Regions from separate parts of the Homo sapiens genome. Here regions 1, 2 and 4 are each reported to be linked to region 3. Evidence: microRNA targets listed by miRTarBase, many of them from high-throughput screens and not tested one by one. Region 3 holds a microRNA gene; each other region holds the end of a gene's coding sequence.
What was found. The annotated mature microRNA hsa-miR-603 reads CACACACUGCAAUUACUUUUGC and lies in region 3 at 3,849-3,870, shown strand. An mRNA with a match to its seed (bases 2 to 7 or 8) in the 3' UTR can be bound and repressed. Matches are read on the target gene's strand: a 7mer-m8 pairs with bases 2 to 8, a 7mer-A1 pairs with bases 2 to 7 and ends in A, and an 8mer does both.

Region 1: miRTarBase lists USP27X as a target of hsa-miR-603. Seed matches in the 3' UTR shown: 7mer-m8 at 1,651-1,657.
Region 2: miRTarBase lists KLHL42 as a target of hsa-miR-603. Seed matches in the 3' UTR shown: 7mer-A1 at 3,160-3,166.
Region 4: miRTarBase lists TECRL as a target of hsa-miR-603. Seed matches in the 3' UTR shown: 7mer-A1 at 3,150-3,156, 7mer-A1 at 3,158-3,164 and 7mer-A1 at 3,348-3,354.

What each region holds. Positions count from the first base shown.
Region 1 is chrX:49,880,681-49,887,806 of GRCh38, forward strand. USP27X (ubiquitin specific peptidase 27 X-linked) reads left to right here. Exons shown (of 1, transcript NM_001145073.3): 1 at 1-1,878. The coding sequence ends at 944. Among named protein-coding and RNA genes, the nearest start is that of USP27X, 4.8 kb to the left of the region's middle.
Region 2 is chr12:27,797,209-27,804,334 of GRCh38, forward strand. KLHL42 (kelch like family member 42) reads left to right here. Exons shown (of 3, transcript NM_020782.2): 3 at 507-5,832. The coding sequence ends at 958. Among named protein-coding and RNA genes, the nearest start is that of MANSC4, 21 kb to the left of the region's middle.
Region 3 is chr10:24,271,897-24,279,022 of GRCh38, forward strand. It overlaps MIR603 (microRNA 603), which reads left to right and starts at 3,789; the gene lies at 3,789-3,885. All of the region lies in intron 2 of KIAA1217, which reads left to right.
Region 4 is chr4:64,274,121-64,281,246 of GRCh38, reverse strand. It overlaps TECRL (trans-2,3-enoyl-CoA reductase like), which reads left to right. Exons shown (of 12, transcript NM_001010874.5): 11 at 161-206; 12 at 1,048-3,545. The coding sequence ends at 1,175. Among named protein-coding and RNA genes, the nearest start is that of TECRL, 130 kb to the left of the region's middle.

The DNA of each region.
Region 1 (7,126 bases), not on the chromosome of region 3:
AGATGTCGTCGCTGTTTCGGGAGTTGTATTCTGGAAACCCGTCTCCTCATGTGCCCTATAAGTTACTGCACCTGGTGTGGATACATGCCCGCCATTTAGCAGGGTACAGGCAACAGGATGCCCACGAGTTCCTCATTGCAGCGTTAGATGTCCTGCACAGGCACTGCAAAGGTGATGATGTCGGGAAGGCGGCCAACAATCCCAACCACTGTAACTGCATCATAGACCAAATCTTCACAGGTGGCCTGCAGTCTGATGTCACCTGTCAAGCCTGCCATGGCGTCTCCACCACGATAGACCCATGCTGGGACATTAGTTTGGACTTGCCTGGCTCTTGCACCTCCTTCTGGCCCATGAGCCCAGGGAGGGAGAGCAGTGTGAACGGGGAAAGCCACATACCAGGAATCACCACCCTCACGGACTGCTTGCGGAGGTTTACGAGGCCAGAGCACTTAGGAAGCAGTGCCAAAATCAAATGTGGTAGTTGCCAAAGCTACCAGGAATCTACCAAACAGCTCACAATGAATAAATTACCTGTCGTTGCCTGTTTTCATTTCAAACGGTTTGAACATTCAGCGAAACAGAGGCGCAAGATCACTACATACATTTCCTTTCCTCTGGAGCTGGATATGACGCCGTTTATGGCCTCAAGTAAAGAGAGCAGAATGAATGGACAATTGCAGCTGCCAACCAATAGTGGAAACAACGAAAATAAGTATTCCTTGTTTGCTGTGGTTAATCACCAAGGAACCTTGGAGAGTGGCCACTATACCAGCTTCATCCGGCACCACAAGGACCAGTGGTTCAAGTGTGATGATGCCGTCATCACTAAGGCCAGTATTAAGGACGTACTGGACAGTGAAGGGTATTTACTGTTCTATCACAAACAGGTGCTAGAACATGAGTCAGAAAAAGTGAAAGAAATGAACACACAAGCCTACTGAAGTGACACACAGACCTACCTGCAATGGAAGATGACGACACCAATACTACAACTGGCATCGAGATCTAAAGGACCTACTTGACCATGGCCCATGGGCCTGACAGAGTAAGAATTGAACAGTACCCAGTGTCCAAAAGGTCCTGATTGGAAGAGAAATAGAAGGGGAGGGAGAAGAGGCTCTAGTCTAAGCAGTTGATGAAAGGGAAATTAAATGGTAGAAACACTCTGGGTGAGGAAGGCAGGAGCAGGAAAATGCTGACACTGGTACATATCCTATATTCCTCCAAAAGATTGTGTGGGAAAGTGTGGGGGGGAGGGGGGTGGTGGGGGGGGAGTGTGCCCTTGTAACCGTAAAACATCTTTCTCCATGGGTGTTTCAGCTTCAATTGACCAATCACATAACAGTTATATGTTTGGGGGGAAAAAGAAAAGTTTCTAAAAAATGTAGCCCATTACATATATGGGTATGAAAGCAGAAAAGTGGAGGAGGCAGGGATATCATTGACAAACACCTTTGCCAGTTTCTTTGTATTCGTGATTTTTTGTGCTATTAAATGCAGTATTAAAACAAGAAAAGCCCACCTGGGCTAGTGAAAGGAGAGGAAATAAGGGGGCTTGTAAAAGGGGAGCCGTCGCTCCAAAAGTAGAGAAGACAAGAAATGCTGTAAGATAAGCAACCAACGCAGACAGGCCTCAGCTAAGAGTATAGTGTGTGTGTGTTAAAAAAAAAAAAAAAAAAAGAAAAAAAAAAGCTGTATGATATACTTGAGCAAATCAATGAACCTCTTTGCGATTGTTTTATCATCTGTAAAATGCAGATAATTCCTACCTTAAAGGGTTATTGTTAAAGATAAAATGATATAAAAATGTGTCAAAGTATAAAGTAAAAGGCTTGGAACTTTGTAGGGACTCAGTAAACGTTTGTTGGATCCAAACCTGAAACTTCTTTGGACCAGGCCCAGAATGCATCAGAGGTGGGGGTCAGTCCTGCCTGAGACCCCTGGACAGAAGGGACACACATCATGTCACATACAGTCACACACACATTCTCCACAACTCCCTCCCCAATGCTGTCTATTTAGAGTACCAAGGCAATGAACTCCACTTTTGTCCCTTGTGTGCAGGGCATCACAGTGGGTGCCACCTGGGATTGGGGGTGGAAAGGACCACAGCTGTCCCATAAGGTCATTATTCTGTCCTTTTGGAGGACAGTCATGTTGCTTTCATGATTCAGATCCCAGTGATGGGACTCTCATGGCCAGTAGGCTGCCAGGCTTGCACACGAGGGAATTTGGTGGTCTTCGTCTTCTAAAAACATTATGGGTTCGGTTGCTATGTTTACTCACAGGCACAGATCAGTAGAAAGACTGTTTTCCAAAGTTCACTGGCCCATCAGCCCAGGGATATTGATAGAGTGGCTTGTTGGCCCCTTCCCTGATACTGTCAGAGGGCAGAGCAGCCTGCAGAGAGCTAAGCCAAAACAGATGGGATGAACCCAGGATGGGGTAAGCACTATGAGTCCTTCTCTCATCAGCATCAGGTACAAAAGTAATTGTTACCTAGATAATCCTGGAGGGAAATTGAATGCGTATCACATCCATGGGGCTTGGATCCACTGGCTCTGGTAAAAGGCTGGGCTCCCCATTGCTTCCCAAGTCTACTTCATGGTCAACTCATTTGGAAATATATGTTTATTTACGTGGCTGTGGGTGCATCACAACTAGCTTATAGGCTTTTTTAGGACAGGAGTTGTGTCTCCTCTTGTACCTTGGGATGCATTCTCATTCCCTTAGCTCCTGTCACATGGTAAGTAGGTATTCAAAACATTTACTGAATGAATGAATGGATGGATGAGTTAATGAACCAATACACCTTCCTTTCATAACCGAGATTTCATTAACACCTAGGGCTCATAATTTTCAGGAGAAAATGTAAAAAGTTGTTATTTTTGGTGTCTTGTAGGATGGGGGAGCTCAAGAGATGGGTGACTTTGGATGGCACTTGGCAACTTCGTGCAGGGTGTCTGACTACCTTTTGGGATGGGTCTGGTATCCCTACCTGGAAGAACACAGCCATGTCCTCATTCTTCATCTCTGCCAGGGGAAGAGTCCAGGCAGGCCTGTGCCACCAGATCCTGACTGCTTGCACAGAAACTGACCTTTAAAAATTTTAAACATTTTTATTTGGAAATCATTTCAAGTTTACAGAAAAGTTATAAAAAATAGTATAAAGAGCATCTGTATGCTCTATACCAGATTTACCTGTTGGGAAATTTTACCTCATTTGTATTATCATTTGCACATGTGCACTCTTTTATAAATGGGGGTGTGTATTTTTGAACGATATGAAGATAAATTAATTACATATATCATGGCCCTCCATGCCTAAATATGTCAGTGTGCATTTCCTAAAAATAGGCATATTCCCCACATCACTACAGTAGAGCTTCAGAAAATTTAACATTGATAGAATACATTAATCTACGATTTGTATTCCAATTTTGTCTGGTGACCCAGTAAGGTCCTTTATAGCATTTTCCCACTCTATTGCAGGATCTGGTTTAGGGTGAAGTATTGCATTTAGTTGTCATCTCTCTTTAGCCTCCTTTAATCTGGAACATTTCCACAACCTTTCTTCATCTTGTATGACATTCACATTTTTAATAGCACATTCCTCATTTTGGGTTTGTCTGATACAGAAAACCCTTTTAAATACCCTGCACTCAACCATAGTTCTAAGAGGAACTCACTGAGAGCTATGAATGGCAAGAGATGCTGAACCTGACCTCCCTGTCTCGGCTGGTGGAAGGCACAGACCGCCAGGGGGAGCAGCTGTGCTGGGCACTTTCTAATTGAACCTCATGCCTCCTATATCTGGAAAACAGCATTGTCCCTTAGCAACAGGGCAGCCATTCAAGGCCAGTCCTATGCCCCTACGAGTCACTAACCCCCAAATTGAGCAATGGAATGTAACAGCAGCCAGAGCCTGCCTTCAGATCATACCATCGTGGAACCCAAGGCATCATGTATTCAGCAGGTATGTGTTAACCTTGAGCTCAAACTGAGATCCAGGCATGTTTGAGAATGTCTGGCACATGGTCAGGCACCTCCACGATTAGGGCCTTTAGGGGTATCAGGAAGTAGCACCCTTGGCACCTTCACTAACGTTCCCACGGTGAGCACAAATACAGCAGTGGCAGGGGTGGGGAGGGAAGGGGTAACTAGTTCTCAAACAGCTTCATGGTCAGAGTACACAAAGATAGGGGCCCAGAATAAGTAAGAAAGAACATGGGAGATGGTGAAAACGGATTGGTTTGTAACCTACTGGGGACTTGCAGACACAATTGGGTTATTTTTCATGTGGGCTGGAGTTCCTAGATGAGCAGATGGGACAAGAACCAGTGAAATTTAAGCTAATTCTTTTTTTTTTTTTTTTTTTGAGACAGAGTCTTGCTCTGTCGCCCAGGCTGGAGTGCAGTGCAATGGCGTGATCTCAGCTCACCGCAACCTCTGCCTCCTAGGTTCAAGCAATTCTCCTGCCTCAGCCTACCGAGTAGCTGGGATTACAGGCGCCCACCACCACACCCAGCTAATTTTTTGTATTTTTAGTAGAGACAGGGTTTTGCCATGTTGGCCAGGCTGGTCTCAAACTCCTGACTTCAGGTGATCCACCCGCCTTGGCCTCCCAAAGTGCTGGGATTACAGGTGTGAGCCACTGCGCCCAGCTAAGCTAATTCTTTAGCAGAGACTTCATTTACATCCACATACTGTTAGGACTGGGAGACTTGGTTCGTATGTAGGTTTGTGATCTGGACTCAGAGGGGCACAGGTGAAATATGGGTGCTCACAACTGGGGGCATTAACCACCCACAGAGTTCAGAACCATGTACCAAACAATGAGATACTGCCCTGTCACCCATTACACATTTCTTCCCACAATTTCGTGGCATAATTTGATTAGAAATCCAGGACCCTGCCATTTACCATTTCTTGGAGTAGCCAGATGCTAAAACTGACTCTGGCCTGCAGGTCACATTGGTAACTGTCTCACTTATTCACTGTCTACAGGGAATTCTGATCAGGGACGCCATCAACCAAAAGGCCTTTTTCCGATCAAGAAACAGAGTGGCCCCCACGCAACTCTTACTTTCAAATCCAGTAGACCTGGTGCCAGAAACCTGTGTTTCCTCCAAATGTATGTTTCACACCCAGAAACGAAGGCCCAGATCCTCTGAAAGTATGTAGCCCAGCACTCACCACAGTGTGTCATTACACACTTGCTCTGCAGGTGAGACCCAGTGCCATTTTTAAACTCTTATATTGAAGTATATCAAATATACAGGAAAAGTGCACATATCATTTATAACTTGATGAATTTCTACAAAGTAAACATATCCCTGTAAGCAGCATCCAGATCAAGAAACAAAACATTCCCCAGAACTCAAAGACACCTATCTTAACTTCTTTTCACTGTAGATTAGTGTTGTCTGTCTTTAGACCTTCTCTAAATGCAGTTGTTCAGCATGTACTCTTTTATGTCTGGCTTCTTTTGTTCGATAGTCATTTTATGAACTTCAGACCTCGAGTCTTTTTTTTTTTTAAAGTAATACCCTCTCAGAGAGGAGAGAGTGGGCTGGCCTCTGTGAAATGAGATCAGCCTGAAGTCTTTTTGTCAAGAAAAATTAGGAGGAACTTCATTATTTCTGTCTAATGAACTAAGAGTAGGAATCCCTACTCGTCCCTGTGATTTATTTGTTTGTTTGTTTGTTTTATTTATTTATTTTCTTTTGAGATGGGGTCTCACTCTGTCACCCAGGCTGGAGTGCAATGGTGCAATCATGCAGTGTCGACCTCCTGGGCTCAAACAATCCTCCCACCTCAGCCTCCTGATATTGAATCAATTCGGAGGGACTCAGGCCATTGCAAAGTTGTGTCTTTGCCTTGAGAATGTCTATAATCTCACTCAGGTACAAGAAAGTGTCTCAAGAGTGTCTGTAATATCACTCAGGTAAAAGAAAATGGTGGATGGAAAATAACCTTCCAAAGAAGCTTGGGTTAATTTAAGCACCCAAGAAATGTTAATCTTGGGCAACACTTCAGCCTTGTTCCAGTAGCTCCTGAATGCAATATTCTGGTAATTTCTCAAACTTTAATATGCATCAGAGGTCCTCATGTACCAAGAGGGCTCATTAACACACAGATTGCTGGGTCCCACCCCCAGAGTTTCTGGTTCAGTAGATCTGGGATGGGGGCTTGAGAATTTGCATTTCTAACACATCCCCAGGTGATGCCCATACTCCTAGTTCTGGGACCACACTTTGAGAACCACTGATCTATTCGTTATCTCACCTTCCTGGAGTCCAAGGAGTCTATGAAGATGGCCCAGGGAGCACCTTGGAGAGCACTGCAGGGAGCAAGGAAAATAAGTTGGTGAGATCAGAACTCTCAACCCCACTTCAACCAGAGAAGCTCTCCTCTTATTTGTTTGGTATTTGGGGGTTCCAGGTAATACTTGCAGAAAGGGTTCTGCTACTAAACTATTTTAAAGTTGAAACTCACTGTGGTAAGAAATTTTAGACCCCAGGGGAATGATATACTTAAACGACCTGGTGGTGTGTCTGGAAAGTAATCCAGCCTGCTACAGAGGCCTGGCCTCATGTGCACTCACAATCTAGATGGTCCTGAGGGGAGACTTAATTTCTTTAGAACTTAAAGAAGTGGATATTTATGAGGATGGAAATGATAAGGAAGAATGCTTAATTATAAAAAGGTGCCAAATTGTGTGTATAAAACATGGTTTCTTCTGGCAACACAGCACACTAAGATGATATAACTAGTGCCTCGTTCCCACTACAAACATAGATTAACACTAGATCAACTAGAACAAAAATTTACATTTCTAGCTGAGCTTTAAAAAATAAAAATCAAAATCTCTAGGGAAACAAAAGGAAAAACAAAAGGCAGTGTAGTAGTTGTAAACAGACACTGCAGTGTCCTGTGTGGTATTGGTTCCAGATATCAGGCCCTGAGGGCTAGGGACTTGGAGCTGGGAGTCCAATACCCATCCAGGTGCTGACAACACAGCTTCAGGTCCACCACAGGCAGAGGAGCTATAGGTGAAACCTCTGGGTAAAGCCTTTAGTAACTTCTCTTGTCCATTAAAAGGGGGTTGAAGAATAAACAA
Region 2 (7,126 bases), not on the chromosome of region 3:
CTTTCTCCTGACTTGTAACGTTGTGTCCTTTTCACTAGACAGCCTCTGGAGATCCTGTGTTGCTACTTGTCATGTTTCTTAGGATCAGCTATCAAGAATAATCTACTTGCTGCCCAGCCTGGCTTCTGTATTAAGTAGTCGGTAATTTTGTAGCTATTGATGAGGGTTCTGAGGCACTTACTTTTTTTACACTGACCTGGTGGTTCAAAGGTGTGGGGATACCAGGGAGGAGGGGCTGTGTGAAAGTCAGAGCTGCGCTTTTTCCTGGTTTTATCCAGTCTGAGTCTCCCACGGAAGAGACGTTTGGGAGTGGGAGGTGAGTGCGGATGGATCTAAATATATCTCTTCCCAGCCACTTTGAAAACTGTTTTTCTAACTTGTGCTTTTTCTGAAAGAGTTTTTTCTCTTTGTTACCAAATTATGCAGGCAGAGGTAGACATTTCTGTACAGACTTGCCTAGTGGTGTTAGTGGAGGCGGTGTCATCACTTGTCTTTCTTTCTTTCAGACCGGAACATGAACATTTTGCAGTACTGCCCCTCTTCCGACATGTGGACGCTCTTTGAAACATGTGACGTCCACATTCGCAAGCAGCAGATGGTGTCTGTGGAAGAGACCATCTACATCGTGGGGGGGTGTCTCCACGAGCTGGGGCCCAACCGCAGGAGCAGCCAGAGCGAGGACATGCTCACCGTGCAGTCCTACAACACCGTCACCCGCCAGTGGCTCTACCTCAAGGAGAACACGTCCAAATCGGGTCTTAACTTGACTTGTGCGCTCCATAACGACGGCATCTACATCATGAGCAGAGACGTCACCCTGTCGACCAGCTTGGAACACCGAGTGTTCCTCAAGTACAACATCTTTTCAGATAGTTGGGAAGCATTTCGGCGTTTTCCAGCTTTTGGACATAACTTGCTGGTTTCTTCTCTTTATCTGCCCAATAAAGCAGAAACATGACTGAATTGAATTGGTAGATGAAAAAAACCTGGTTCAAGTTTTTTTTAAAATGTGGTGTCCCATTCCAAGGGAGACCAATTCCTAAAGGGTAAAGAAGGGTTAAAGTAGGTCACATATATACAGTAGCAGCTGTAAATAAGCTTACTTGAACTAATTACTTGAAAACTGGTGGAAAAAAGAGACCAACTTTGTTATTTTTTAAATTATTGATTTTTAAATTATGGGAGCAAATCCATCTCCAAACATGATACTCTTGGGCCAATGACGGATCATCAAAATGTAGATTCATTGTGTCTGTGTGGTAAAGGGCCAAAGTCAATAATTGGGACAAATGGTAAAGATGATTTTAAAATCTGTTGTATTTAGGTCCCTTGACATATCATTAGCACCTTAAGTGAGAGGTTTTCTTTTTCTTATCAGTGTCCTTGACAAGCATTCATATTAACATATTCATTCTCTCTTCTCCATCACCCATACCCACACATACATCTAGTATGTTTAGGGTTCTGTGTTCAGATATTTTGTTTGCACACTACTTTTTAGGAAACTTATAATGATGGAGCCCTACAGTGAATCCTTACCAGTGTTCAGTCCTCCCCAAAACTTGCATAAAAATATTCTTAGCTATTTTTCCAGCCTTTTTTGCAGTTACAAATGCTGGATAAATAGACTGATAAAACCTCTTATTTTATTTATGTGGCAGGTTGCATATTTATGTGGACACATAGGTTGCACTGCTAGGCATTCTGTATTGTTTTAAAGAGGATATATTATTTAGAAAAATGGACATATGAATATTATTAAAAATTGAGTCTTAAATTTAAATGGGAAGGGAAGAAAACACCAAATAAGAAAAAAATTTGCCTTTAAGAGTTACTTTTGTTGAATGTATTTGACTTAGTTCTTATTTTAAGGCTAAAAAAACTTTGTCATATTTAAGTCGGCAGCTTTCTAATTTAATCTTAGCTTTGTAATTCATGTTTTGCTTTTGTGGACTAAGGTAAGGACAGCATTTAAATATTTGTGCTGGAGTGAGGGGAAGAAGCTGTTACAGAAGTGGAATGGTTTCTGGTGGTATTTCTGAAGTTAGGTAAAGTGCTTTACTTGCCTTGGTTGTTAATTGAAATAGAATTCAGCTCAAGCAGTTGTTTTCAGTGAGTGAGTTAACAATAAAAGCTTCTGCCAATCATAGATCAACATTCCTCAAAAATACATACACTCATACTTATGGAAATTTTATTTTGATTGAAAACACTCTGAAATTATCTGATATTTTGTAATGGCATCAGTTAAACTGTGAGCTGGATTCCATCTTTCTGCAGTAACAGCGGGCAGAACCATTTCAGTTAGCATGTGCCTCACTTTAAGAAAGTCCTGTAGGGGAAAAAAAAAACTGTCAGAGCGAATTCATGCATTCAACAAACACTTATGAGTGCCTGGAGTATGCCGTCCACTGTGCAGATGTAGGACAGGGGCTAATCACTTAGAGTTCTTCAGTTTATTAGAGGAGTGACTACAGGTTTTCTTTACAACCATGGCCTCTAGTATACTTAAAATAAGCGTCCAGTTATAAAAAGCCTATTTGCACAACTTTTTGGGAATACTTCTATTAACTAAAATGAGGTAAGCCATTATTTTGGACATAGAAACAGATCTTTGTATCTTGTCACCAAATAATCTTACCTCTAGTCTACTTACAACTTTGTAAGGGTTTCTAAGCTATGCCCATTTATTCCCAAATATTAAGCCCTTAAAAAAATAAAACCTCTGAACCAAAATCTTCCCAGGAATAGTACTTAATAGATTTTAATGTTAATTTATATTCATTGTAGAATTGAATTTCCAGTGACCTGTAATTTCATTACATATATTTTAAAATCTATTTATTTTAGATGGTGTTAACTTTTCGTTGCTGAAGAGCTTAACTTTTTAAAGGCTTTGTCCTATACATTTAGAAGATGAGTCAGTTGAATTAGTACTGGACAAACAGTTGGAGATTAGTTTGCAAATAAGCATATCATATCAAATACAATATTCCAGCCAACCAGTTAATTCTCTTCCTGGTTACATTCATTGGGTCTATTTGCCTAATGTTGACAATTAGATTCTTGGACCAAGTGAGGGTGTACTCTGATCCACAAAGCTCTTTTATAAACCAGGTTTGAGGTTGTGTGTGTGTGTGGGGGTGTGTGTGTGTGTGTGTGTGTATGTTTGCATATTATAGCTCTCTTTAAGACAGACATCTAAAAAGATTTTGGTTATTCTGGGCTGCCAGCAGTACGTGGGAAAGGTGGAATGTGCAATAGGAACAGATCTGTGCATTTTGTGACATCGTCCTTCCTGCTGTGCACATCAGCTGTGATGACATTTTGAGGGTAGTTTTAATTTAGCTCGGTTCTCTTGTTGGTGCCAGTATTACATTGAAGACTACCTATGATAGAGGCAATGTTGCTTTGAAAATCTCCCTTCAGGCGGAGGTTGCAGTGAGCCGAGATTGTGCCATTGCACTCCAGCCTGGGCGACAGTGCAAGACTCTGTCTCCAAAAAAAAAAAAAGAAAAAAGAAAATCCCCCTTCATCCCCCAGGACTGTCCTTTACTCTTTGATAGTATCCCTCTATTTTCTTCCCAATTCTCTAAATGCTTTATCATTTTTTCCTGAGATGCTTCTGAGGGATGCTGACCTCCCACTATGGGGAAAAGGGTTGCTTGGAGGACCTGGGGTGGCAGCCCCCCGACCAGAAGCACCCTATTTTATAGATAGCAGTCTGAATGGTAGAGAGTCCTGTGTGTGGGTTGTTAGAAGGTTGGTTCTTCCTGTTATTCTCTCTGGCTTTCCTTTCAACCCACTTATTTTCAGAGGCCTCTCCCCTTAGCATCCTTTAAAAGGTTTTCTGATGAATGTGTGAAAGAGTTGATTATTTCAACAGTATTGGTTAAGTCACAACGACGAAGTGCTGAGAAGGTTATGGGTACCAGGAAGAAACAAACAGAAGTCTTAAGATTAGAATGAGAACCAAAGAGAATTTAACCCTGCCATTTTTTTTTTTTTAACACCAAGATCCTAAGTAATTCCAAATGCCTTAGATATCAATGAAAGCTACACACCATTGAGATGGGCAAAATTCTTTCTCTACAAAGGGAGTAATCAAGTAAATACCTGTTCTCTTTCAATGGACTGTTGCCTATTGAGCATTGTGGATGATGTGTTTTCAGATTTCCAGGTGAAGTTCTGACCCTACCTGTTTGGCCAAAGACGTAAATTGAGAGGAAAGGCCTTGGTCTTCCTGATCAACCAGCATTTAACGAACAGTGGCTTAATGCAGATCACTCAAGAGGCAGCATAGCAATGTAAAAGGAATATAAGTAGGTGTTGGATGCCTTTTTCCTAGACCAGGAATGGGGAATATATAACACCTGTGCCACCGCTCTTTTAAGGAGGCATTATGAATGAGTGCAGCATTCCTGTCCTCTGTGCCAGGATTTGGTCTTAGAATCCATGTCAGATTGGTGCTTCCAGACATCTATTCCCAGTCCATCAGAGTGAAATGAAGGCTATTTGCCATCCCTGCCTTAGACAGAGGAGTGAAAGAATTAAGTGGGTAGACACCAACCAAAATGACTTTGAAAGCAGTGAGCTGATTGAGCTCCAGTTCTGTGGTTACCAGAAATACTGAGTGTCTGTCATGTGCAAGACAATGCTAAGAACAGAATACAGACATAAATAAGTCACGGCCCATGACCTTGAAGAGCTTACGGCCTTATAAAGAGGTTCACTGTAATTGTCTTCACCAGGGCGTCCTTCTCAAAGATGCCCACTTTTGTCTGGCACATTGGGGCTCGGTGGTCTGGTGGTCCCTTCGGTCTTGGCCCTGTCCGTCCTTTGTTTTTGTGATTTACTAACAATCATCACGAACCAGTTTTGTTTTTCTTTTAAATTTGAACATCACATCTTGTGTTTTAGTTTTTTGCTCTATGATTTTTTTCTCACTGCTTTTCAGTCTTCTCTGTACTTCATTTTTGTGAAAAAGTGAAAATCACATATAATCTTTATTTAAAAATGCTCACCAAGCACTGCAGACTTTGGAGTTAGGGATTCAGCAGCTTGTTCCAGTGAAAAGGAGGAGTGAAGCTGGGGAAGTTAGTATCTAAGAGGGGCAAGCTGATTGCATGTGCATTTATACCTATGCCTTTAAAACATTCCCATAAAAAGTATTAATAAAGAAATTTCCATTCCACACTAGTACTGATGAAAAGGTGGTTGATTTTGCCTTGTGATAATTATCAAAGGATAGTTTTTCATCCTTAGATTTTATTCACATGAGAGATTTTTTTTATTTTCTCTGTTGACTTAGGAACACATCATAAATTCACACCAACTGACACGTTGCTGACGTCTGTACTTGACATAACCATTTTTATTCATACAGGAAGCATTAAATATAAAAGATGGTCAGTTTTGAAGAGCAAAGGGTGCTGAAATGACTTGTACGGTTGGCTGGTGCTTTCTCAAATGGATTGCCATAGTTCATTACTAGTAAAGAAAAGGAAAATGTGATTTACGTTGTCATTTTTCCTATTAAAAAAAACCCTTAAGAATGGGGCACTTGAGCTGTCCCTGCAATGTTTTCATATCTAGTAGTCATTTTAGGGAAAGTGATAATCTGTAGAATGAATAGTTATGTTTTGATATGACTGATACTTTCTTTGTTAAAAGGTTGTATTAAGTCTTCAATTTCAAGTCTAGCTTAAAAGTGTAAACATTATGTGATTCATTTGAATACAAGAATGCCTATGAAATACCCACTATAACAGCATTCCTTTTGTGTTTAGAACTATAGAAGAAAATGTCTTCAAATAAAGTAGTTTTCAGTCACTTTTTGTTATCTAAGTTCTATGTATCAGTTACGTATGCAGGGCTGTGCCAGGACTGGGAGGAAATGGGTGAAGTGACTTGGGAGCCTGAGGTGGGAGGATTGCTTGGGGCCAGGAATTTGAGACCAGCCTGGGCAACAGTGAAATCCTGTCTCTACAAAAAATAGAAATAAAAGAAATTAGCCGATACAGTGGTGCATGCCTCTAGTCCCAGCTACTTGGGAGGCTGAGGCAGGAGGATTGCTTGGGCCCAGGAGTTTGGGGCTGCAGTGAGATCTGATTGCACCACTGCACTCCAGCCTGGGCAGACAGTGCAAGACCCCAACTCAAGAAAAATGAAATAAATGGACAACCATTTTCTACACACTCAGGACACACTGATGGAGGAGAAGGAGGATGGCTGACCTAGCAGAGCGACACCCAAATCTAACTGAGCACTTTTTTTTTTCCCAGGAATTATTCTAAGCATTTTTTATTTAAATTATTTAATCCTCACATGAATCCCATGTGGTAAATACAAATATCCTCCGCTTTACAGTTGAGGAAACTGAGGCACTGTAGGTTACAAATTGCCACTTGAGAAAGAGGAGAAGGGAAAACTACATACAGTGGTCACTGGTTTAAAGGGTATCCTTTCTCTTGCTAGTGGAGGAGTGGGTTTCCGAGTGAGCCAGTCTGGGAGCCTCTGGTCCTGCTTTGCAGCAGCGCGTTCCATGGCTGACCTGCCTGGGGGTGAAGTGGCAGCCTCTTCCTGTGGGCATGGTTACAGGAGGTGTGTGGAGGGGCACCTGAACACTTCTGTTGAGGCCAGGGATCCTAGGCTCCTGTTTGTAGGCCATCAACATTTCCTTGGCAATAAAACTTTAAAAACCCATTTGAGGCTGGGCACGGTGGCTCACACCTATAATCCCAGCACTTTGGGAGGCTGAGGTGGAAGGATTGCTTGAGCCCAGGAGTTCAAGGACAGCCTGGGCAATACAATGAGACCCTGTCTCTATTAAAAAAATAAATAAATAAAAACTCAGATGCTGGTAAATCTGATCTCCGGCAACTCCATAGGATAAAGGCCCAGATTTAGAGGAGCCCAGTTTCTTTAACTTAGAGCCCATCTTTATGATGTCTGTCTCTTAGCCACAGGCTTCCTGCCCATGCCTCCACCTTCAGTTTGATGGCGTCAATCTCTCTCTTAGCTTTGGGATAATCTGAAACCATAGGGGTCTGCCGTTCCCAGACTACATCCCAGGGACTGCAGCATTAGTAGAAATGATTACCTCTGTGTGGCAGGAGGTGTTTGG
Region 3 (7,126 bases):
CCTAGCCTTATACAAGATAAGATAGCCCACTTAAAAGTGGCATAAAAGGCCACTTTTATGCATCTCCATTTTAGGTTGGTTACAAGAGGCACAGAGAGACCAAAGCCCATGGGATGCTCGTGAGAGTAGGAAATTGGGTGGGAAGGGTGGACTCGGGAGACAACCTGACATCTCTCTACTTGAAGCCTAGCAATAAGGTTCAAAGGTTCCTCATGCCTTGTTTTCCCTTCTCTCTACATGATTAAGATCCCATTCCTGTAACAGATAGCAATGTGTTTATGCAGTAAAATTAGATAAGGGAGATTACTAGGGAAGTCACTACTCAGTTAGGGATGTCAGTGGTGCTCACTGCAGGTCCAGGTTAGTAATAAGAACTCTGGACTAGTAGCTAGGAGTGCTTGAATCTAGATTAGTTCTACTTTCTAACTCGATGTGTGACATTTTTTCCACTTAATTTTTTTGGCCTTGGTTATCTTATTGGAAAAAATATTCAAGTTGCACAAATAACTAAATGATGCCTGAGTTTTCATTCAGTTCTAAAACTTCTCAACTGAGCAATCTGTTGTTGAAAGGAGAGTACGAGTTCTAAAAGCTACTCTAGGGAGCTCTGCATTCACCAAGCCGCTCCATCATTGTTGGGAAGAAAATACTAAGGTTGACTCATTGTCAAAGCCACATTCTACTCAAACTCAATGTACATAACTCGAATTCTAGCCACATTCCAGCCAAATTGAGATAGCTGTTCAAATAGTCATGGATTTATTTAATAACTGACTTCGAAATTCTTTACTTCTTTCAAGGTGGCATTAACAAGTATTTCGGAATTTCAACAGAGATCGGTTTTCACGTGCTCTTCAATGATCCCTGTGAAATAAATCATATTCAAGGGTTTTTTTCCCCTTATGAGTTATTCGCCTGAAGGAAGAATTCTTCATTTCTTTTTCTTTTAAATGCATGTTGGAATAAAGTCTTCTTTGAAAAGTCTTAATGAAAAGAGCAAACGTGGAATAGCATCCACCCCAGTTCTTTCTCTGGTCCTTGCACTCTGAGAATGAAGTCTTAGACAGCAGAATGTCAGGGGACTCTCATTGCGTAAAAGTCTGTGCCCTTCTGCGCCTTGGACAGTTATGGACAGAAGCCTTTAAGAAGAAGAAAATTAAAACTAGTTAATTTTTTAGTTAATTTTAGCAACACTACATATATGAGAGAGAGAAAAGATGGCATTTTCTGAATGAATGAGATGCCTCTGCATTTTGCCCAACTCATTGGAGACTCAGGATAGAGAAAAGGGAGAAATTATGTTTAGAGGCTGATAAATTTCCCTATGGTTACTATCAAGAGATCAGACTCTTATTAACATTTGCAAAGTGTGAGCAGAGAAGAGCATTTGAACAATAAGCATAGATTAAGTACTCCTCTTTCCTTCATTCCCTTTTCTCTAGTCATATTCTCAGACAGTCCAGGCTAAGTATTAATGATCTTCTTTGAAGTTAAACATACCCTTGCTACTTTCATTACATTATTATTTTTATGTTCTTCCTTTTGGAGTACTCAAGGTAAATGACATGGCAGAATCTGTCCCAGTCCAGTGAGGGTGTCACATAAGAGGCCCTTGGCTTACCTCTATGCATAACTGGCCCACGTCACATCTTTAATTAGAAGTCCAAGTTATTGGCTGGACGCCATGGCTCATGCCTGTAATCCAAGCACTTTGGGAGGCCAAGGTGGGTGGATCACCTGAGGTCAGGAGTTCGAGACCAGCCTGGCCAACATAGTGAAACCCTGTCTCTACTAAAAATGCAAATATCAGCCGGGTGTGGTGGCACATGCCTGTAATCACAGCTACTCGGGAGGCTTGAGGCTGGAGAATCGCCTGAGCACACGAGATGGAGGTTGCAGTGAGCCGAGATCGTGCCACTGTGTTCTAGCCTGGGCGACAGAACAAGACTCTGTCTCAAAAAAAAAAAAAAAGTCCAAGTTACTGTTGCAGGGATTGGGACATCTTGCCTTTCTCAAGTTGAGCAATATTCCCAAATATAAAAATGTAGGATCTTAGTCCAATCAGAGCAGATATTTGGTGTAGGGCATTTTCTAATGTAGTACCAATAAATTAGACGCATACCTCAACCAAAAAACAGCCCATATCCAGTAAGTAATAAGGCAATGATTTACATTTCACATATTACCAGAGTAATGACTAATAGCATACATGTATAAACTGAAAAGTGACTGATGCTTATTTTCAGATGGGTCCAAATTTATTGGATAATTATGGAGAATAATGTATGTTTTCTGAGAGTTGGTAGTAAGAAAATATTGCCATTGCTGGCCAGGCACAATGGCTCACACCTATAATCCCAGCATTTTGGGAGACTTGAGGTCAGGAGTTCATGACCAGCCACCTCAGCCTCCCAAGTAACTAGAACTACTGGTGCATGCCACCAAGTCCAGCTAATTTTTTTTTTTTTTTGAGACGGAATATTGCTCTGTCACCCAGATTGGCTGTGTTCTCCATTCTAAGTCCAGTGGTTAGAAATTGTCAAGTTCTCACATCTGCAAAAAAAGTAAAAAAGATGAACCTGCTACATCTAAATATACTTTGTTGTCTTCCTACAAGTCCTATTTTACATACTTATGGCATTTTTACTGCAGTTTGAAAATACAGTCAATTCTTGTTATTCACAGTATTGATGTTCTATAAACTTGCCCTAAATACTGCATTAGTGAGTCCTGAATTTATTAGTTAATACTGAATTTCCTAGGGGAAATACAGGGTTAGGTTCCTGTGAGTCTTTGGTTACCTTTTTATCAACCAATCAACAAAAATCCTTATTTTACCTGTGTTTTTGTTTGAAGACACCTTTTAAAATATATATTATTGATTCATTAGCATTGAACTAAGCTTATCTAATGCACTTATTTTTTGTGTAAGGTGTATCACAGCCTTCTTGAGCCTAGGAATGCCAAATAGTACTTCCACACCATACTTAAGGGCCATTTCATTTTATTTCTTATTTTTAAAATTTATTCTCTTTTCTTATTTAAAGAAAAAATTTGTAGATGCCGGGTCTCGCCCTCTTGACCAGGCTGGAGTGCAGTGACACAATCACAACTCACTGGAGCCTCAAACTCCTGGGCTCAAGTGATCTTCCCACCTCAGCCTCCCAAATATCTGGGACTACAGGCACACGCCACCATGCCCAGCTAATTTTTTAATTTTATTTTTTTGTAGAGGCAGGGTCTGGCTATGTTTTTGAGGTCTTAATTCCCCAATGAACATGACTAGTATATTCCAGGCTGGTCTTGAACTCCTGTCACAAAGCAATTCTCTTGCCTTAGCCTCCCAAAGTGCTGGGATTTCAGGCATGAGCCACTGCACCTGGCTTGGACCATTTTAAATAGTGAAGTCACTCACACACACATACACGCATGCAGGTGCACACACAGACACAAAAAGACACAAAAATGCGAAACTTGTGGCACTAAAAAGACTGTGGAAAGGGTGCTTCCTTACAGTATGAAAACTGAAACAAAAAAGCAGAGTGTTGTTTAGTTAGACGCCACCTGGGAACGTGCTTGTTGGGAAACTCCAGTTGTCCACTGTCCTGCCATGTCTATGATGACTGCAAACATTTGGGAGTATTAATTTGAGGGTCACAAACAGATTTTAGGTGATGGGCATATTTACAAATACAGAATCTGCTAGTAATGAGGACTGACTGTATAATGCTTTAGTAGTCTCAAGTATGTTTTTTTTCTCATTAAGCCTTTGCTTAAGATGCAGGCAAGATTGATGCTGTTGGTTTGGTGCAAAAGTAATTGCAGTGCTTCCCATTTAAAAGTAATGGCACACACTGCAATTACTTTTGCTCCAACTTAATACTTGGCTTTATTGACTTTTAGCATCAGTGCAGTTTGGTTAATGATAAAATTTTCCAAAGCAGTGTCTCATCTGCAGGAGCAAACTATAGCAAGGGCCCTGGCCATCAGTTCTCCCTTCTGGTCCTGATATTCCTTTTTAAACTGTCTTTCCATACCCCTCCCTCCAGTGGGCTTGGCGATGTTGCATTAAATAGCAAAGAGAAGGAAACTCCTCCCCAGTCCTCACTGACCATTTCTTTTTCCACTCAGTCCTGCTCAGAATGTAGAAGAGAAGTTGAATTTAATTCATAAATTCAGCAGCTTGAGGACTGTCAGTTTTGTCGTTATTTAGTGAAATAGTAATTGAATTGGGCTACAAGGTCATTGGAATCTGCTGTTTCATTTCATATCATTTTACGTGTTATTATTCTAATAAGAATACAAATGGAGTTTGATGCCATTTGCTGATCATCCATCTTATTGATGCCATTGAACAGAACGCAGAAACACAAAGGGATTTATAAGGCATTTCAGTTTTGATGTCCTTTGAAAAATGAAAGTCTTTTCAGAAATGCAAAAGACAAAATGACTTAGAATTCCATCTCGTTCTGCCCGGTTTGAGGGCATCCCTTCCTATTCCTTAGATAGCTGTTAATAAGAGTCCTGAGGAAAACTGGGTTTGAATTTAAAAACAAAAAATTTTTAAGAGACAGGGTCTCGCTTTGTCACCCAGGCTGGAGTGCAGTGGCACAATCATAGCCCCTGTAACCTTGAAGTCCTGGACTCAAGTGATGCTCCCACCTCAGCCTCCCTAGTAGCTGGAACTACTGGCACATGCCATCAAGTCCAGCTTTTTTTTTTTTTTTTTCTGAGATGGAATCTCACTTTGTCACCGAGGCCGTAGTGCAGTGGCGCGATCTCGGCTCACAGCAACCTCTGTCTCTCAAGTTCAAGTGATTGTCCTGCCTCAGCCTCCTGAGTAGCTGGGACTACAAGCATGTGCTACTACGCCCAGCTAATTTTTGTATTTTTAGTAGAGACAGGGTTTCACCATATTGGCCAGGCTGGTCTGGAACTCCTGACCTTGTGATCCGTCCGCCTCAGCCTCTCAAAGTGCTGGGATTACAGGCATGAGCCACCACACCCAGCCAAGTCCAGCTAATTAAAAAAAAAATAAAAATCGTAGAGATGGGGTCTCCCCGTGTTGCCCAAGCTGGTGTCAAATTCCTGACCTCAAGCAATCCTCCCACCTCGGCCTCCCAAAGCTCTATGATTATAGATGTGAGCTGCCATGCCTGGCCTTAAATTTTTCAAAAGCTTTTAAACCAATCTTAAAATGTTTTATCCTCTTAGAATCATGTCCCTAGTTTTATAGCTTGGAAATTCTTGCTCTTTTCAAATTGCTCTTTAACTCTGGCCTGATTGGAAGGTGGCAGCTTTTCAAATACAGGTCATGGCAGCGCTCAACCTGGATTCCTCAGTTGCAGAAGACTGCTTTTGCTAGACTGCTGAATTTACTTCCAACTTTTCAGATGTTTCTGAGGTTGACCCTGGTGTGGTTCCCACTCAAAGTGGAGCAAGCAGGTGGGTGGCAGGTCTCTTCTTAGCGGCTTCCTAGAGGGAAGCCTCGTGAGTGGGATGGGGGACAGGTTGCCCTGGGGGAGCCCAGGAATGGGGAGACAAGGCCACCTGCTATGCAGATGATATAGTTTGGCTGTGTACCCACCCACTTCTCATCTTGAATTGTAGTTCCCATAATCCCCACATGTTGTGGGAGGAACCTGGTGGGAGGTAATTGAATCATGGGGGCGGTTTTCCCCATGCTATTTTCATAATAGTGAGTGAGTTCTCATGAAAGCTGATGGTTTTATAAGGGGCTTTCCCTTTCACTGGGCACTCATTCTTCTCCTTGCTGCTGCCATGTGAAGAAGGACGTGTTTGCTTCCCCTTCAACCATGATTGTAAGTTTCCTGAGGCCTCCCCAGCCCTGCAGAACTGTGAGTCAATTAAACCTCTTTCCTTTATAAATTACCCAATCTCAGGTTTGTCCTAATCGCAGCATGAGAATGGCCTAATACAGTAGGTTTTCCTGAGTCCTCTCTCTGACTCACCCTCTGACGGGCAAAAGACAGTGGCAGCACTGCCAGCAATCAGCTGGGAACTTCTCCCCTGTGATAGAAAGCAGTGCTTGCTGGCTTCCCTTTGTGATGCTTTTGGACAGCAGCTCTATGGACCTATGCCTTTTGTCCTTTGAGGACGGACGCACAGTCTGTGCAGCTCGAGGACGCCGTCATGGGTGAGATGCTGTGGAGTGTGATGACGCCACCTCTTAGGCTGTGTGTGAAAGTAGCGAGGAGAGGCAGGGTCTGCATGAGCCACTTTGGAGCAGGCCAAAACACTGTGGAGAAGCACATTACAGCCACAGTGGCGGTGTAAAGGGTCAGACTGACCACTGGCTTCTGGAAAGTCTTCATTTCTGAAAGACTGTCAGGTAGAAGATGGATGAGAGTTACTCTGTGAGGCCGGAAACCTAGAACTCAGACCATTGTGTGCAGACCAGGGAGAGGCAGTGTTTGGAGTGAGATAAGCAGGAATTTTGAAATTACACAGACCCGGTTTTGAATTTACTCATGAGCTGTGTGGCTTAGAGAAAGCTGTTTAATCCCACTGACCTTCATCTGTGAAGTGTCCAAAAATAATACAGAGCTTGCAGAGTTGTGTGGATAAGGGATAATCTATCGAAAGCATGTGGCAAGTGGCAGACACAATGTGGGCACTAGGCAAGTGGCAAGTCCCTTGTATTGAGTCTTATTTGTCTATTCAGTGAATATTTGGATACCAACTCTGCTGTTCTGGGCATGATGTTAGCCACTGGGGAGACAGAAGGAATGAAAGAGATGAGTAACCTAATGTGTGCTGTCTAGTGGGGACTGCAAATAAAGTGGGTGTTACCACTAGCGTGCTCTACAGTGTTATGCTAGAGAGAAATTTACTTCCTTTGGCCACTCACTTCCTTGTTTTTAAATAAGAACTGAGTTAAAGTTGCTAACTGTGAAGACTGAGTAATTTGAATCTGCTGTTGGTGTACTCAGATTACTTTTTTTTTTTTTTTTCTTGGAGACAGAGTCTCACTCTGTTGCTCAGGCTGGAGTGCAGCGGCCCAATCTCAGCTCACTGCAACCTCTGCCTCCCAGGCTCAAGCGATTCTCATGCCTCAGCCTCCTGAGTAGCTGGGATTACAGTCACGGGCCACCACTAATTTTTG
Region 4 (7,126 bases), not on the chromosome of region 3:
TGACTTTATATGTAAAAATTAAATTATTATTTCTTGAAAATGTATTCCTATCTATAAGTTTTCTAATATTTTAAGCCTTAAAATTACCTGTTAAAGCCACAAATGAACAAATTACTAGATTCCATTTATGTATGTGCTAATTTAAGTTTTAATATAACAGATTGGATCATGGATTAGTTTCACAGTCATGACACAAACACTGCCAGGTAAGACCTAGATATACTGATAATTAATCAAAATAAATGCATCTTTAAGATAAATGGTTTCTGAGAAAAAGTTATTATAGTACTAAAGTATAGCATGATTGTAAAAGGATTTCATAGTTTCATACTGAGTTTGATTTTTAGCAGTATTAAAATATATTGAAGTACTTTTGCTCTTTGTCTCTGTATAATTGTTGCTTAATCCAAGCCAGGGATTGTAATCCAAATGTATTTATTAAGCAATGAAGTTTTGTTTAGAAGAAGTTTTGATAACAACGCATTTCGCTTGAAACTTCTTGTGCATGTGCACAGGCATGTGTATGTGTTTTGTCTTCAAAGGAAGAGTTGGGTTGTATGAGAGTTCATCTTGAATACTGAGCATTTTAACACACACTAAGAAGTTGAATTGCATGATTTCCATATAGTAGAAGGGACATATGTAATGTCCATTTTATCCATTTTGTTATATTGTACAAAAGTTTTGAATCACAATTAATGTGGTTTATTATATTATGTGCATGTAGAGGAATATTATATGCATACAGGCAACTATTATTGAAAATTTTTAAGTACAAAAATAAATCCTTATTTGGGAATATTTTGTGGCAGTGGTATATAAAATATGTAGATTCATTTTTAATTTTTAATGTATTTTCTGTGTTTACTCATTCATGCGATATTGATTGGCTATTGCTTGGGAATGGGTATGAATAATGAAAATTGATAAGAAATTATGCAACATTTGAGAAACATCTTAAAAGCTAAACATGCTAGGGATCCTTTTCCTAATATAACATTTCATAGAAATAAGAAAGAAATAATAATTATTTCTTTTTTCTTCTAGTTGGAATTTTTACACTTCTGATGAGTATCCAGATGTCTTTGTGGGCACAAAAGAAACATAAGATTTATCTGAGAAAATTCAATTCATATATTCATAGAAAATCAGCAATGATTCCATTCATATTGTAAAAAAAGAATCTTATCTCCTATAGAAAACAGCAACATATAAATTCAATAAATAAGACTTAGTTAAGGATAGTTAACTATTATACTCCAACAATTCATGAGCAACAGTATATACACTGAGTAAAAATATAAAATAGTAAAATTTCACTAAATTTAGAGAAATGCACATGGTAATAAAAAGTATAAATTATAAATGCAATTAACTAAGAACAGCTCTGAATGTATTTGCATGGGATTGGTCCTTGAATAAAATTGTCTTACTTCATTAATACTTCACAATACTATTTGCATAAGACAAAATACCACAGCAAAAAAAAAAATCTGATTAACAAATGAAAAAGCGATCTGAACAGACATTTCCCAAAGGAAGACATATACATGGTCAATAAGTATATTTTTAAAATGCTCAACATTAACTATTCATACAGAAATGCAAATCAAAACCACAATGAGATATCATCTCATCCTAATTAAGGTGACTATTTTCAAAAAGACAAAAAATATGACAGCCGTGGTGGTTCATATCTGTAATCCTAACACTTTGACAGGCCAAGGCAGGGGAATTGCTTGAGTTCAGAAGTTTGAGATCTGGGCAACATATTGAGACTCTGTCTCTAAAAAGCATATTGAGACTCTGTCTCTACAAAAAAATTTTAAAAAGTAAAAATTAGCTGGGCGTGGTGGCACATGCCAGTAGGTAGTCCCAGCTACTCGAGGTTGCTCCAGCTCAGGCGTTCAAGGCTACAGAGAGCCATGATTAAACCAAGGCACTCCAGCCTGGGTGACAGAGTGAGACTGTCTCAAAATAAAATAAAAATAACATATTGGTGAAGATGCGGGAAAAAAAAAAGAACTCTTAGACACTGCTGGTGGGAATGTAAACTAGAGCAGCCATGTGGAGAACAACATGGACTTTCTTCAAAAATTACAAATAGAACTATCATATGATCCAGCAATACCATTACTGGAAAAAGGAAATCTGTATATTAAAGAGACATTTGAACCCTATGTTTACTGCAGCACTATTCACAATAGCCAAGATATAGGAGCAACCTAGGTGTCCAACAACAGATGAATGGATAAAGAAAATGTGGTATATATACACAATAGAATACTATGCAGCCATAAAAACTGAATTCCTGTCATTCAGGACAACATGGATGGAATTGGAGGGCATATGTTAAGTGAAACAAGCCAGGAACAGAAAGTTAAACATTGCATGTTATTACTTATATGTGGAAGCTAAAAAAATTGATATCATAGAAGTAAAAAATAAAACAGAGGATACTACAGGCTGGGAAAGCTGCAGCAAAGGGAGACTAGAGAGAGATTTGTTAAAGGATACAAAGTTACAGCTTGGTAGGAGGAATAATTTCTGGTGTTCTATACCACTGTAGGACGACTATAGTTAAGAACATTATATTCCATTTAGTTTCAAATAGCTAAAAGGAGATTTTGTCCCCAACAAAAAGAAATGATAAATATTTGAAACCATGGATACTCTAATTTCTCTGATCTGACCACTATAAATTATATGTATTGAAACATTATTATGTATCTCCCAAATATGTTCAATTCTTATGTCGCTCAAAAAATAAAATTTAATTTAAAAAGTATCTGATTTTTAAAGTAAATATTTTTTAAAGTTTTGACATTTAAATTACTTGAATCTCATTATTTTGACAATAATTTAATTCTTTTATTGTTCAATCTGTTAGTGAGATGTGTCATAGGTATTATGTCATTAGTTCAAATTCTTGCGGAAATTATAGCTATATTAAAAGTGTAACATTTTTATTTAGTTGTGTACTTATTTGTTAATAATACAGACATTGTATGTTATCATACTGAAATTTACAATTAAAATATTTTCTGTAGATTATTTGAAAATCATTCTAAATATATATTTTGAAATATATAGATTATATTTGTATGTAAATTATATTTATACATCTTCTGAAATATATTTCAAAATATGTGTGTACGTGTGTATATGTGTATATATATACACATATATATACACATACACAAATATATGCATATTTCAAATGGATTGTATGCACTTGCAAAGCAAAAGTACATTGGTAATTTGGGCACATTCAGAGTGGAAAAAATTTGTTCTATTTTTACATCTTTAAATACCTATCTTCTATGAAAGCCTATGTGCATGTGTGTGTGTGTATGAGTTTCTATGTGAGCATGCATATATACTTCACAAAGAGATGACCTATATAAATCAAAGTACACATTATTTAAAATATTTAAAAAAATTTTCAGTTTCTTCATTTTTAAATTGTGATTTTTAGATTTGTTAGTCTATGGAGTATTTTCAATTCTCAGATTATACATATGTTATAAAATATGTTCATTAAAGCTCTTAGATTATATGCATATATGACAATATATACATATACAACTATATACACATATACAACTATATATATGTGACAATATATTGTAAAGCAGGTCTATATACACTGGGTAGGGGCTGTTTATTACTAACATATGTGGCCACTAAAGAAATAACAAAAAGCCCCTTTAAAAGCCTTATAATTCCCAAAGCATACTATTAAAATTTCTAAGGAGAAAACAATAACAACAATAAAATTCTCACTCCCTAATATCTATTCAGCTAAATTGTATGATATCATTTAATGATCTTAAAAAGAAATGTCAATGCAGTAAATCATATATACCTAATGCAGCTATATGATCAACTACTTGTGATAAATGTCCCTTTTTTGAAAGACTAAGAATAGTTTCTGTTTTTGTAACTCGATCCTGACAAATAGTAACCTAGGAAGTTTGCACATTCTTGTAGGACTAGAAGAAGGACTTTAAGTATGGGGTACCTATATGACAGACATTTTTTTTCCCATTATACTACACTCCCTTATGCCAGTTGCTCCATCATACTTTTTTTGTATCAGTTATTCCCTTACTGTTGGCAGACATACCTTAGTTAAAGGATATCTTAATTATGAAATGTGTTTTTTAAATTTATTTCTCATTTTTATTTCCAGGTGGTCTCACTGCCTAAGACATCAAAAGAAAAAGCCTGACAAATTTACACCATCTTGTTGTCAATATTAATGCTACAGGTATAATCCTGTAGCAGCCATGTACACATTTTTAGCCTTTAAAACCTAACCTTCATTTACAGGTTTTAGGAGTTACTATACATAAGTATGTACACATATGCATATGTATATGGGTATGTGTGTAAATGTGCACACTTACAAACTTTAATGATACTCTAAATTAATATATAAGATTTATGTAAATAATAAGTTTGCATTGCTGGCTAAAATATTGTGCATTTATTTTAATATAAAACAAATCTATATAATCTCACATATTCATGGTTTTTTGCCACATATCTAAGTAACTTAATTTTAGCTTATGGAGTATTTTGCAGGAGCAGCATTCAACACTGCATAGATTAGTTGTAAGTGTCTCAATTACATTTACATATCAGTGTGTTTGGTGGGGAAAGAAGATGAAAAATAAAACATTTGAATATAAAATTAAAATAAATAAAATATGACATTTATTTATGATAGATGTCATAATTTGATCATATTCATAGGAAAAACATTAATGAAAAATTTAAATGCAGAAAAATATATACACACATTATACAAATTAACAATAACATTACTACCACAGTTACTTATTGAAGTAATATGCTGTCTTTAATATGTTTCATTATACCATGTTCTCTCAGAGTTAACACTCTCATCCTATAAATAAAAGATATATTCTCAAATTCTAAAATTCTTGTGTGTGTATTTTCAACAGTTGTTATTTTTAGGTCAAGAAAAATATTATGACAATATTAGCAACTGTTAAATTCTATGCTTTGAGACGTATAGGCCTCATTTCTAATTTAATAAGGTATGTATATATTTGATATTTTCATAAAAGCAATACAGGGTTTGGCCAAGAAGTTTTGCCGTCTGTGAAAGGCATGCATTTGATGCTATTATAAGCCATATTAACTGGAGAACATTTCTAAAATACCTCCATTTCACATGCAAATTTTATACTCTATATATTGATGGATTTGTTTATGAGATTGAGAGTCAGATGTAGCAATTGGTGAGAGAGGAAACAGTTACAAGGCAGCCTCTACTTTTTAGATAGTTCGCTTGTTTAAGAGACAAAACAAGTTCAACTTTAATTGAAATATTGCATATTTGCTTGCTTAATTACTGTTAAACCTTAAATTAAATATTCTTTATAATAAGCATGTCTTCGAACATGAAATAAAATTAACAAGTCTGAGAGTGAAACTTTTCCCATTATGAGAGACATTTTAGTCAGCCTCATCACAAGAAGACTTTTGCTTTCCTCAAACCATCCCATATTTCTTTTTGACACTTGAAAGTATGCCTCTGCTTCCTGTATTTCTTTTAAACATTCTGGAGCTTTTGTTGTTTTGTTGTAACTGTTGCCAAATTTATAATTGTTAGATGACAAATGTCCTTAACAAGTGTTTTTCAGTAATTGTGCCTAAAGAAATACAATTATAATTGCCATCAAACTAATTTGGTATGCATGCTTTTACCTCCCAAACCATAAATTGTCCTCTTCCTTCAGGACACTGTAAACCTTGAATTAGAATCAAATCAACAATTTCCATTATTGTAATGTAGAAATCAGTTCATTTTTTAAACACAGGAATCAAAGACTGCCTGGCTTACATATCCTAAACAGTTTTAATATGAAAAAAAGATATATAAATGTTTAGAAAAAAAATTAGTAGAATTAATTAAAATCAATTAGAATATGTGTATTAAAAGCAATATTAAGTTGTATCCATATGTTGTTCTTTTATTCTTTGGGTTACATGGGATATAAAGGGATTGACAACCTCAACCTGTAAATGCTTCTTTAAAAATCATGGAATTATGAATCTGATTCCCATTTTCAGTCTTCCCTAAGGCCCTTTCTCTATTATAATTTCTTAGAATGTATTTGCTCTTCTTTTCTATAACTTTTGCCGAATATGTCATTTATTAAAACAAAACAAAGCAAACAAAACTCTAAAAACTAAAAATACACCATTACTGGTTATAAGTCTTTCTTCAGATAAATGCATAGTTCTGTAAATTCATGCCCCATGATATCTTCACAGATTATCCATTGGTTTTCTTGGTGTTTAGTAATTCTTGTACATATCCAAAGATAGGTCAGTTCAGAGGGTCTTAAGGAAGATGAAACTGCTGAAATAAAGACTGGACCCGGTTGGGAAATGAATCTCACTTAAAGCAAAGATTGATAATAATCTCAAGCAAAAGTGGGAAAATATCATAACAGGAGGTCTCTTGCCAAACTATAGCTTTGCACATCCCATTTGGAGTTTAAGACTAGTACCCAGTAATTTAAATATTTAAATTTATGAGCATAGTAAGAAATATGAGATTTGATAACCTCAGAGTTTTCTAATACTAGATTTTGATAACAATATTTAAAAAATCAACAGTTCCTTTAATTTAATTATTATTCTAGTAGTTACTTTTGGAAAAATTGTTTAATTCTCTATCCCAAAACAATTTGTCAAAAAAAACCCAGTGTTTTTAAAATGCCACATCTTTGTCTTTCCCAGTATTTTCATAAAAAATAGCTGGAGAGAGAAAAACAAAACAAAACAAAGAGATGCATCAGCTGCAGCTACACATCAATTACCGCATAACTGCTTCCAGTGCCTAACCCTTCTACCTCCAGTTTCTACTTTTTCTACCTCTAGTTGTTACTTTTAAAATGCATTCTGGGCTGGGCATGGTGGCTCACCCCTGTAATCCCAGCATTTTGGGAGGCTGAGGAGGGTGGATCACCTGAGGTCAGGAGTTCGAGACCAGCCTGACAAACATGGAGAAATGCCGTCTCTACTAAAAATACAAAATTAGCCAGGCATGGTGGCGCATGCCTGTAATCCCAGCTACTCAGGA